Homo sapiens: one gene and its partner. The protein of the gene in region 1 interacts with the protein of each later gene in a biochemical or structural test. Each region holds a gene or a part of one and is shown in the gene's direction. Other genes may lie near its edges.

Region 1 (5,451 bases):
CAATTGTGAATTGTGCTACTATAAACATGCATGTGCAAGTATCTTTTCTAAATAATGACTTCTTTTCCTCTGGGTAGATACCCAGTAGTGGGATTGCTGGATCAAATGGTAGTTCTACTTTTAGTTCTTTAAGGAATCTTAAAGTGTCCTAGTTGTTTTATTAAACAAAATTAAATCTGTGTGAAGTTACCAATCCAATCAACACATGAAAATTCCAGGGGATTCCAATGCTGAACAATTGATCCAAGCCCCATAATTTCCCTCCCTTGCCCATCCTGTGCCCCTTGCCCTGTTCATGGCTCCCCCCTCACTCAAAGATTGGTCTCTGATCCTGGTGTTCTGATTCTCTCTTCCCACAATCAGTCGGAAGATCATAATAAAGAATTTTGACATTCCCAAGTCAGTACGTCCAAATGACGAAGTCACTGCAGTGCTTGCAGTTCAAACAGAATTGAAAGAATGCATGGTGGTAAGTAGAGGACTGGGGGCGTGACTTCAAAAGATAATTCAACTCCTTGATTATAAACATAATTTAATCTCTCACTTTAATAATGTACAGTGTACTTAATGAAACATTCTCACTTATGTTATGCTACTTGAGACTCAGAACAACTGTGGGAGCTTGGGACAGATGACTTCTCATTTTCCAGATGAAGAAGTTCGAATCCAGAGAAGTCTAGGATAAATAAGAAGGAAAGGAAGAAGGAATAGGAAGTGAGAAAGAGGGAAAAAGAAAAAAGTGTAAGAGCTAGTAGAGAAGCAGTTAGAGTCCTTCCAAGGTCCTGAGCATGTTTAGTTTAGGATGGAGGGAGGGGAGTTCTCAGAAGAGAAAGCAGCAACTCCACACCATAGGTTGAGGTGGGTGGGCAGAAGAGGACATGCAGGATATGACTCCTCCTCTCCAGTAAGCACTGAGCGACTCTACTGTCCTCTTGCCTTCTTCTGCTCCTTTGCTCTGGGTCACCAGAAGTGGACTCTTGTTCCAGCCTCCCCACCCTGACAAGGAGCTCGTAATCATCTCCTCCTTTTCCCCACGTTCAGAAGTCCAATCTCTGAACAAGGTCAGAGGTTTTCAAATGGTAATGTGTCTAAAACTCACTCGGGGATCTTGTTAAAATTCAGAGTTTCATTCAGCAGGTCTGGGGAGAGATTAGAACTTCTGGATTTTAACAGACGCCCAAGGTACACCAAGGCTGTGCCCAAAGGATCACATTTTTGAGCAGCTTGGGATTAGAGCATTATCCCTCCTGTCTAGCTGCCAAGGGCCAGAAGTCAAATAGACTTATGCAGTTATTAATCCACAGTGACTCTTCCCTGGGACACTGGTTGTGTGTCCTTTTCCTAGTCATTGATCTCAGATGTCACAAGCATGCAAACTGCCCCCACTACCTTTGTTCTAGGGCCAAGACCCATGCATCTCCCATCTCCCCTACTCCCTCCCCAGACCCTTCATGAAGGACACCTTCTATCAGGCAGCACAAGTATTTCCTTACAACATAAGTTTCCTAATTCAAATGAGACTTAAGGACAATGATTACATGTAAAACAACATTGAGAACATGAAGATTGCTATTCAGTCAACTGCATTCTAGAAATATCCCCACACCTGTAAAGAAAAATTCCTGGTCAATGAGCAAAGAATATCACAGCTGCTTTGTCAAATTTTTCTATTTTCAGTCCAAGAATCTGAGACATGTACACTAATTTGGGGTAGGAGCAAGGCTGAATCATAATTTTTCAACTCTGTATTTTGTTTATCACAAACACAGGTGAGAATGAGAATAAGAACATGTACATAATGTGTACATAAAATTTTTGTGAAAATGGTGGTTTCTGGTGGTAATAGTTAATGGTAGTGGTAGGTATAATAAGATATGTTTGAATCAATAAAATTACATGTGACATAATTTTGTGCTTTTGTGATTAATAAAAGTATGCTTTTAAGAATCATGCTAGTACTCTAAAATAAAGCAATCTTTTCAAAACCCACCTAAGCACAACTAAAAGAATAAGAAATCTTTAGACTAACTGACTTTGCAAACTAGAAATAATTTACAGGAAAGGAAATTTTGTTAATTCTAGTCAACAAATTTTTATTTGTGGCTTCATTTTTCAAAGTATAACTATTTTTAAATTTTTATTAAAATATATTTATATAACTATAAAATTCTTACCATCTAATCCTCATTTTTTATCATTTATAATGTTTTCTGTAACTGAATTTTTGAAAAAGTGAGGTTTAGACTCATATTTATTTATTTTAGAATTAGAATAGAATATACCTACAATCGTATATTTGAATATAAAGATTGCATAATCCTTTAAAGCTGAAGGAAACTTGTGGCAAAAACAATGCTTAAACATTTTTGTGCTACAGGCCATTTCGTTGGTTTCATGAAGTTTATGAAACATTTATCAGAAAATTGCTTCTAAATGTATAAAGTGCATTGGATTACAGAGAGAAACTACCACATTGAGTAACAGTGACTAACTTGTAAAAAATAAATTTGTGATGCAGTAAGGTATGTGTTTCTTTATGCACACATTAGCTGGGAAAGCAATACATTTAAAATATAGAAGAGTTGAATTTTATTCTATGAACACATTATCTGTGTGATGGATGTTGTTACTTAGCTTGAAGAAGTACATTAAACTGCACTGGTCTTTGGCAACACGTCCCACGTGCCATGCTAGGCATGCAACGGATTCTGATCTTTTATTGTACAAGTGGTGTAAATTCTGATTCATGACGATATGTTGTTGCTAATGTAACAGAAAGGTAAACAAGGCCGGGCACAGTGGCTTGTGCCTGTAATCCCAGCACTTTGGGAGGCCAAAGTGGGCAGATCACCTGAGGTCAGGAGTTCGAGACCAGCTTGGCCAACATGGTGAAACCCTGTCTCTACTAAAAATACAAAAATTAGCCAGGGCTGGTAGCACGCACCTGTAATCCCAGCTACTCAGGAGGCTGAGGCAGAAGAATCACTTGAACCTGGGAGGCGGAGGTTGCAGTGAGCCACGTTCGCACCATTGCACTCCAGCCTGGGCAACAGAGTGAGACTCTGTCTCTTAGAAAAAAAAAAAAAAGGGAAACAAGGCACAGGTAGTCTTCTCCAAAGAAACGCCAGGATTCTCCAAGGCATTCTGAGTAAAACTCCAAGGGTGAGAACACCTGAATTTACTGTTTAGGTCTGAACGGCTACTTGATGCTGAGTTGCCAGGTAGCTGAGCAAGCTGCAGGAGGTGGGCAGAATGGCACTGGGCCTCAGTCGTGACCATGAGCCAGTCTGATAACTGCCATACATTCAAGGTAGTACATTCAGGCTGTATTTCGGACCTCTGGATCCGTGCAATGATATGTACATATCTACTTTTCTCCTTGTGATAAAATCACACATACTGCTAATGGCACTGTGGTTCCTTGATGACATTCATAACAGAAGGAATGCTGAATTTCAATTAGAGGTTAGTAATAAAGATGCATATTTTTCCCCTGCCTGAGTCCACAGACTCACTGAATGCTATCCACAGATCCCTCTGGGTCTATGGACCCCAGGATAAAACTGCTGTGTTAAACGTTAACTGGACAAAATCCTCTGACTCCACTGAAATTTATATATACAATAATCTGGGATCTTGAATTGCAAAGCACTCAAGTTAAAAAGAAATTTACATTCAAGATGTTATTTGCTTATCTAACAGCCAGGTTTGGTAGTTAATTGTTTCCACCTCATACCTGAGGAAAGTGAGAGTGAGAGGCCTCTCATCACCAAAGGTCACCAAGTCAGAGAGGAGCACAGATGGGGCTTGGTCACAGCTCTGACAACAAGGCCTGACATTGGCTCCTACACGCAAGTGGCCAGGCTGCTGTCTCACCAGGTCTCAGAGTAAACGTGATTGCAGGTCGATTCCTGAAACCTCTGGCTGGTGACTAAGGCAAGCCTGCTCCTCAGCTGGACAGCTGCCCTGGATGAGCTCTCCTTGCCCTGTGGATTCACTTGCATCCCTATCTCCTCCTGAGCTTCTCCACACTGCTAAGGCAGGAGTTTGAGGGCATTGGAAGGGAAAACCTTCTGACCTAGACTTTGGCTCCTGAAATGATACTACAACAGTAGACTCCCCCTTGCCCTAGGCCCACCTCCACCCCCACTCTTCTCCTCCGGCTTTTCCCTCTCCTATTTTTCCCTCCCTTACCCATTCCCCAAAATAACAATGAATTCCCCCTCCCACCTTCTCCTCACCAGGTTAAAACTTACCTCATTAGCAGCATCCCTCTACAAGGTGCATTTAACTATAAGTATACTGCCTGCCTATGTGACGACAATCCAAAAACCTTCTACTGGGACTTTTACACCAACAGTAAGTACAGAAGTTGTCCAAGGAGGGAACTACCCACCAGCCACCAGGGAGGAGAAACTATAAACAGAAACATGGCTGCGAACCGAGCAGGACCAGGACCTCAGGGCAGAAGGACAGAAGGGAGGGAGGGAAGAGCATGGGGAGAGCAGATGGGGAAAGCACCCAGGTTCTAAGACAGAGGCATTGAGTGCAAAAAGTTGATACAGGAGACAAATTTGCAAAGGATTTGGGGAAACTGAACCCCAGGGGGCAGATGCCTGATATGAGTAGAAAAGACAGGACATGGCCGGGGTGTCTGAGAGATGATCTCCGTCCCTGTCTTTTTCAGGAACTGTGCAAATTGCAGCCGTCGTTGATGTTATTCGGGAATTAGGCATCTGCCCTGATGATGCTGCTGTAATCCCCATCAAAAACAACCGGTTTTATACTATTGAAATCCTAAAGGTAGAATAATGGAAGCCCTGTCTGTTTGCCACACCCAGGTGATTTCCTCTAAAGAAACTTGGCTGGAATTTCTGCTGTGGTCTATAAAATAAACTTCTTAACATGCTTCTCCATGTTCTGTTGTATCTCCAAAATCTGCTCCTGAAGAACCCCAGATTACCTGAAATTTCTAGAACATTTGTCTTTCAAAGAACCTTTACTGAGGAGATTGTACGGGTTCTCACTGCCCATTGGTATGAAGAGGGAGAGAAGAAGAAACTGGGAAGAGGAGCTATGCTCACAGAGAGGAAAAGCAGTGGCCCTAAAGTTCACGGCACAGGAGTGGCAGAGCCAGGGCAGGCACCAAGCCTCCCTGTTGCTTGACCTCTCTCCATCCCACTGCCCTCCAGCAACAGCTCAGATCCCAGAAGACAGGAGTCCTGTTGCATGCAGCAGAGTCAGGGATGGAGTCCATGGCCCCCTAAATGAGCAGTAGCATTCTATGCTATTCTGTTGCTTGTTTTCAATGGATTGTGACACTCAGGGATATCAGGGTCCTGTGCAGCTCTGCCTGAGGAGCTCAGGCATAATAGAGGAGTAAAGGGGCAGAGGGAGCCCTGAGGGGCTTCATCCCAGAGGGCCAGCCCATAGAAGTGGAATATGAGCAAG
Region 2 (7,194 bases), on another chromosome or scaffold:
TACTCGGGAGTCTGAGGCAGGAGATTCGCTTGAACCTGGGAGGCGGAGGTTGCAGTGAGCCGAGATCACACCACTGCACTCGAGCCTCGGCGACAGAGCAAGACTCTGTTTCCAAAAAAAAAAGAAAAGAAAAAAGAAAAAAAAATATTATTCAATAGCCAGGAGTTGCAGGGAGTTAGAATGAGGAGTCAGTATTTAATGGGTACAGAGTTTCATTTGGGGAAGATGAAAAATTTCTAGATGGTTACACAACCATGTGAGTGTACTCAGTCCCACAGAGCAGTACATTAAAAAATGCCTAAAATGGCCGGGTGTGGTGACTCACACCTGTAATCCCAACACTTTGGGAGGCCAAGGTGAGCAGATCACTTGAGGTCAGGAATTCGAGACCAGCCTGGCCAACATGGTGAAACCCCGTCTTTACTAAAAATACAAAAATTAGCCAGGCGTGGTGGCGGGCACCTGTAGTCCCAGCTACTCGGGAGGCTGAGGCTGGAGAATCGCTTGAACCCAGGAGGTGGAGGTTGCAGTGAACCTAGATTGTGCCACTGCACTCCAGCCTGGGGGACAGAGTAAGACTCCGTCTTGGAAAAAAAAAAAAAAAAAGCTTAAAATGGAAAATCTTATGTTGCGTGTATTTTACCGCAATAAATTTAATATCAATAAAATTTAATATATTAGGAAAATATTAAACAAGCATTAAGGGTCTTCCAGGGCCAAGGCATCTGTGAGGGTGCTGGGAACATAGTGCTAACTAAGACAGACACGGTCACCGCTCTGGCCTGTGAGCTAGACACTAAGCAGCAAATAACTTCATTGCAACTGGAAAATTGCTACGAAGGGAGAAGCACAGGGGACTGGGAGATCTTATCACAAGGAAAACTGATTTCAACTGAGGAACCTGAGTATCCTCTGAGACTCTGGGGAGGAAGTCCTGTGCAGGAGAATGGTAGAGCAACAAAATATAAACAGCCCCAATCTTGGCCCTGGAGGACGGCGTGCTGCTCCCTCTCTTCTGCACCACCCACCTCCACACTTCCTACATGTGAAAAATAACTTCAATCTTGTTGAAGCCTCTATTATTTTGGGTTTTCTTTTGCTTGTAGCAGAACCCAGTGCTTACCGATAGACAATTCTCCCAGTTGAAAGAAGGTTCTTTTGTGATAAGATCTCCCAGCACCTTGTGCTTTTTCCTTTGTAGCGCTTGTCGAATTGTAATGAAGTTGTTCGTTGTTTAGTGTCTATGTCATAAGCTGGAGTGGTGACCATATCTGTCTTCTTCAACATCACATCCCCAGCTACCTAGCAGAGTGCCTTGGGCTGGTACACGCTTAACTACGTACATGAATGAATGGAGCAGGGCTCAAAACATCAATGCCTACCAGAGCCTGCCAGGTAATGTAAATGAGAAAAGCAGACTGGCTGTGAACAATAGGGAGGGTGTTTGCTTTCTAGTCTGAAGGAAGAAGGCCTGAGGAGGATACATTTTCCCCACTTTGAGGAGCAACTCTGAGGTTGCACCTAATACTTTCACTTCTATCTATTAACCAAAATTGAGTCACTTGGACACATCCAGCTGTGAGGGAGGCTGGGAAGTATATTTTAAATCTGGGTAGCTAAGAGCTCAGCTAAAAATTGAGGGTTCTATTACCAAGAAGGAGAAAATAGACTTTGGGGACAGCTAAAGCGATAGCTGAGATCTGAAGAATGAATAAAAATTACCTAGATCAGTGGTTCTCAGAGTGAAGTGTGGCCTGCAGACCCTTGGGAGTCCCTGAGACCCTTTCAGGGGATCTTCAAGGTCAAGCTATTTTCATAAAAAAATACAGGATGTTATTTTCCTTTGTCACTATGTTGACATTGCAATAATGTTGCAAAAACAATCTGGATAAAACTGCTGCCTTAGCATAAATGAAGGCAGTGGTGCCAAACCATATGATAGTCATTGCATTCTTCACTGCCAGGTACTTACAGTAAAAAAAGAAAAAAAATTAATGCCACTTTTACTTAAGAATGCCCTTAATGAGGCCGGGCGCAGTGGCTCGTGCCTGTAATCCCAGCACTTTGGGAGGCCGAAGCGGGCAGATCAGGATCACCTGAGGTCAGGAGTTCAAGACCAGCCTGGCCAACGAGTGAAACCCTGTCTCTACAAAAATACAAAAATTAGCCAGGCATGTTGGCGGGTGCCTGTAATCCCAGCTACTCGGGAGGCTGAGGCAGGAGAATGGCTTGAATCCAGGAGGCGGAGGTTGTAGTAAGCCGAAATCATGCTGCTGCACTTCAGCCTGGATGACAAAGCAAGACTCTGTCTCAAAAAAAAAAAAAAAAAAAAGAGAGATCAAGACCATCCTGGGCAACATGGTGAAACCCCATCTCTACTAAAGATACAAAAATTAGCTGGGCATTGTGGCGCATGCCTGTAGCCCCAGCTACTTGGGAGGCTGAGGCAGGAGAATTGCTTGAACCCGGGAGGCAGAGGTTGCAGTGAGCCAAGATCACGCCACTGCACTCTAGCCTGGGCAACAGAGTGAGACTCCCTCTCAAAAAAAAAAAAAAAAAAAAATATATATATATATATATATAGAATGCCTTTAATGAAGCAGTAAATACTAATTTTATTAAATCTCAACCCTTGAGTACGGTGTGTCATGAAATGAGAAGTAGCACACAGTACTATATGCTACAGATGAAGTACAATGCTGTCAAATAGGGGTACTTGTGTTAATTGTTGGAGTCGCAAGCTGAACTAGAGTTTTCTTTTCTTTTCTTTTCTTTTCTTCTTTTCAAGACAGGTTCTCACTCTGTCACTCAGGCTAGAGTGCAGTGGTGCAATCACGGTTCACTGCAGCCTCAACTTCCTGGGCTCAAGCGATCCCCCCACCTCGGCCTCCTAAAATGCTGGGATTATAGGCATGAGCCACCACTCCCAGCCCCACTTTTTTCAGACTGGAAAACGCACACTCACATGTGCATCTTTAAATGATCACTTGGGCTGTGGTATGGAGAATGGCGACCAGTGAGGAGGCAGGAGCTGTTGTCCGAGCAAGGGATGATATTGGCATCTTGGATTGGCATGGTGGCAGTAGTGGTAGTGCAGAGTGACTTGGGTAGATTTTGGAGCCATTTAGAAGGTAACATCCACAGGAACTGGTAAATAAATACGTGGGAGAAGTTGGGTGAAGGGGGTGTCAAAGATTACACCCAATTTATTTTGCTTGGGCAAGTTGGTGGATGGTGAGCCCCTCACTGAGTGAGAAGCCTGGAGAAGCAGGTTTGGAGGGTGGTAGTATGCAGGTGGTATGCATAGTTGGGGATGTGTGTTGAGTTTGCTATGTCCGGTGAGCTTCCCAGTGGAGATGTCCAATGGGCAGACGGATACTCACATAGAGAGTTCATGGTAGATTCGGGCTAGAGGAAAGCACCTGAGGCCTGGCCAGAGACGCCTAGAGGAACAGAGCCTGGTTAACAGTCACTCCTGGTGTCTCAGATATTCTCTGCTCAGCCCACGCCCTCTCTTCCACACTGGGCCACCTATAAAGCCTCCACAGATACCCCTGGGGCACCCACTGGACACATGCCCTCAGGGCCCCAGAGCAAGGAGCTGTTTGTGGGCTTACCACTGCTGTTCCCATATGCCCCCAACTGCCTCCCACTTCTTTCCCCACAGCCTGGTCAGACATGGCGCTACCACTAATGGAATCTTTCTTGCCATCTTTTTCTTGCCGCTTAACAGTGGCAGTGACAGTTTGACTCCTGATTTAAGCCTGATTCTGCTTAACTTTTTCCCTTGACTTTGGCATTTTCACTTTGACATGTTCCCTGAGAGCCTGGGGGGTGGGGAACCCAGCTCCAGCTGGTGACGTTTGGGGCCGGCCCAGGCCTAGGGTGTGGAGGAGCCTTGCCATCGGGCTTCCTGTCTCTCTTCATTTAAGCACGACTCTGCAGAAGGAACAAAGCACCCTCCCCACTGGGCTCCTGGTTGCAGAGCTCCAAGTCCTCACACAGATACGCCTGTTTGAGAAGCAGCGGGCAAGAAAGACGCAAGCCCAGAGGTAAGGTGGTCAGACTCGGCTTCCTTCCCCGGAGCTGAGAGGGAGGGGAACGTGGGGCAGATGCACAGGAATGTGCTCTGCCCAGTTGTCTGCCCACAGCTCTGGCCACCTTCTCTTGCATTTCTCTTGGAACTGGTCATGAGCAGCGATTTCCCACTGGAACTGTGAGCTTCCAGAGGTCAGAGACTGTGCTAGACTCCTCTCTGCAGCCCCAGCGTGCACAGCTCAGTGTCCAGAGCAATGGGTGCTCCTTAGAGGAGTAGTGACCTAAATAGCAAGATCAGAGAGGGAGTGAAGACTGGAGACTATCCCAGGCTGGGAAAGGCGTGGAAGGCAACTAGTCGTGGGCAGTTGAGGGGAGAAGACTGGAAGAGGGGAAAAGAGGAGAAAAAGAGTGAAGAAGGGGAGGGAAAAAATTAGAAAGAATAAATAAATATAAGGTGGGAGGAAACCTATAAAAAAGAAATGATGAGGAAAAACATAAAAACAAGAAAAAGAGCAAAAGAAGTGGAATCTAGTCTAGAGAAAATTCTTGCAAAACCAATTTTCCTTAACGGGACAATCTCCAAAAATTGACACCAAATATCATACTTGCAGCATTTCATAAGTCGCATGATCTATGTAATAGTCTCTTTTAACTACCTTTTGTGTTTCTGTGTGTATTTTTAAATTTTTGTCTGCTTCTTTGCTCTTTTAAGATTTTTGAACAATGTCTAAAGGCACTTCTACTCTAGTTAGCTTTAAAATGATTCATGAAATAGGAAAGCTAAAATTCTCAGAAAGTGTTGAAACTGAGCTTTTGCGTATGAATTGCCCTAAAAGTTGCAGATACATATCTTTAGATAAATATGTCATTTAAGAAACGGATTCGAAAAGAATTGGTGGTAGGGGTCTCATGAGGCCGGGAGAGTTACAGAAGGATGTGCAGCCCCTCCTGGGCCTGGCAGGGTGTGAGGGAGAGTGAGGACTCACTGTCCCTCCTGAAGGGAAGCCCTGTGCCATCTCAGCCTTTCCGCCCTCAGACCTTTCCAGCCCCTGAGACCTCATGGCCTTGAAGCCGTGCTATCCCCAGTGTCCTCTGCTTTCCCCTCATAGGCTTCTTCTGGGAGAGAGGTTTCCTGGGGTACGTTCTGATCCCTCAAAACGGAAAGGCCCTGTTCTCAATAATTCAAAGATTTCACTCTGAGTGGGATAGTGCTTCCTGAATGCCCTGCTCTTGTGGTGGACATTTTTATCGGGGCAAGGCTAAGAGCAGGGCCTGATGGGGGAAGTCACTGCTACTTCACATTTTGACCAATAATTCCTTGTGCTGTATCAGATGCTGTAGGCTGATACAAAATGGCCGCCGCCCTCAAAGTCAGATGAAAGAGCCCCTGAGGACAGCGTTAGAGACACTCGGGAGATGATTTCCCTCTTTCAATGTGGGAGCACTTACATAGGAGAGGTCTATATCTAGATAAAAACTCCTCCCACCACTGGTGCTAGACAGAGCTTGGGGGCAGCCCTAGGCTCTGACCCTGGCCGTAATGGCGGGGTGGTGCTGAGGGCAATTGGCTAGACCAATTGTCTTGCACGTTTTATTTTTTATTATTATTTTTGAGACGGAGTCTCGCTCTCTTGCCCAGGCTGGAGTGCAATGACGTGATCTCCACTCACTGCAGCCTCCACCTCCTGGGTTCAAGCGATTCTCCTGCCTCAGCCTCTTGAGTAGCTGGGATTACAGGAGCCCAACACCACGCCCGGCTACTTTTTGTATTTTTAGTAGAGACCAGGTTTCACTATGTTGGACAGGCTGGCCTCAAACTCCTGGCCTCAAATGATCCGCCCGCCTTGGCCTCCCAAAGTGCTGGCATTACAGACGTGAGCCACCATACTGGGCCAGTCTTGCACATTTTAGACACTCAATAAATGTTTGTTGAATGAAATACCTGTGATGGGCCGGGCGTGGTGGCCCACACCAGTAATCCCAGCCCTTTGAGAGGCCGAGGCAGGAGGATGGCTTGAACCTGGGAGTTTGAGACCAGCCTGGGCAACATGGTGAAACCCCCATCTCTACAAACCCCACAAAAGTTAGCTGGGCATGGTAGTGTGTGCCTGTGGTTCCAGCTACTTGGGAAGCTGAGGTGGGAGGATTGCTTGAGCCTGGGAGACGGAGGCTGCAGTGAGGCCTGACTGTGCCACTGCACTCCAGCCTGGGCGAGAGTGAGGCCCTGTCTCAAAATAACTTTGATGAAGGTGGGGAATCAGAAGTAGGTGGGCAGGGGTCTGGGTTTGCAAGGCTCTGAGTTTGAGCTCTGTTCTGTACCTTTGAGGGGATGAGGGAAGGAGGGTGGGCACGGTTCCCCCGATGTGGGTGTCTGAGGCGAAGAAGAGGATGGCGGAGGTTGCAGCCACCAACCACAAGAGTTCCTTAGAGGGGTCACAGTCTCTAGGAAGTTTATAGGAAGCTAGTCAGCAGTAGAGAGGGTGAACGCGGTGGGGCACATCCCGCGGCTGGGCTTGAGTGGGCTGCTTGGGGGTTATGGGGAGAAGATAAAAGTGCCTGTGGGACCACAGACTCTCGCTGTGGTGGAGCTGGGCCCTCTTACCCTCCCAAGCCTCGCCCCTCATCCCATCCCTGGGGGCCAGGGGTGAGGGCGGCAGGAACCTCAAGGCTCTGAGAAAGTGCGTGGTGTGTGTTGCCATTTTGGTCTCTTCTCTTTCTCAGTCTCTCTTTGCCTCACTTTGGATCTATGCTCTGTGCATCTGTCTTGCTTCTCAGAATTTCTTCTTTTCCTCTTTTTTTGTACTACCCTGCGCTTTGTGTGTGATTGTGGATTGTGTGTGCATAGCTGTTGCTTTAACAAGCTGCTCCAGGTCTCTCTCTCCCACATCTTTCCCTCCCCTCCTCCCTTGAGGCTCTGTGCATTCTGGGGAACTCTGTCCATTTCCCTTTGTCCATGTGTCCCTCCCACCCTGCAGCCGGCTCCCTCACATCCACCCTGGGCTGCAGGCGTGCTCGGCAGGCTCCCCACAGATCAAAGCTTGTCCAGGGTCTGCATTGCTGCCAAAGGCCAGGAGGACTGTGTACAGACCGGAAGGAGCTAGAGCTTAGTGGCAGCCTGAGAGGGGAAGCTGAAAAAGGAGAAGAGGCAAGGGGCAT

Evidence for each region.
Region 2: the proteins of PIP (region 1) and CD4 form a complex in vitro, tested with the Homo sapiens proteins (one study listed by BioGRID).

What each region holds. Positions count from the first base shown.
Region 1 is NC_000007.14:143,134,831-143,140,281, forward strand, and holds the end of PIP (prolactin-inducible protein precursor), read left to right. Parts: intron 1-363; coding exon 364-469; intron 470-4,244; coding exon 4,245-4,359; intron 4,360-4,687; coding exon 4,688-4,812; 3' UTR 4,813-4,909; downstream 4,910-5,451.
Region 2 is NC_000012.12:6,785,611-6,792,804, forward strand, and holds the start of CD4 (T-cell surface glycoprotein CD4 isoform 1 precursor), read left to right. Parts: upstream 1-3,917; 5' UTR 3,918-4,052; intron 4,053-7,194. UniProt on the Homo sapiens protein: Integral membrane glycoprotein that plays an essential role in the immune response and serves multiple functions in responses against both external and internal offenses.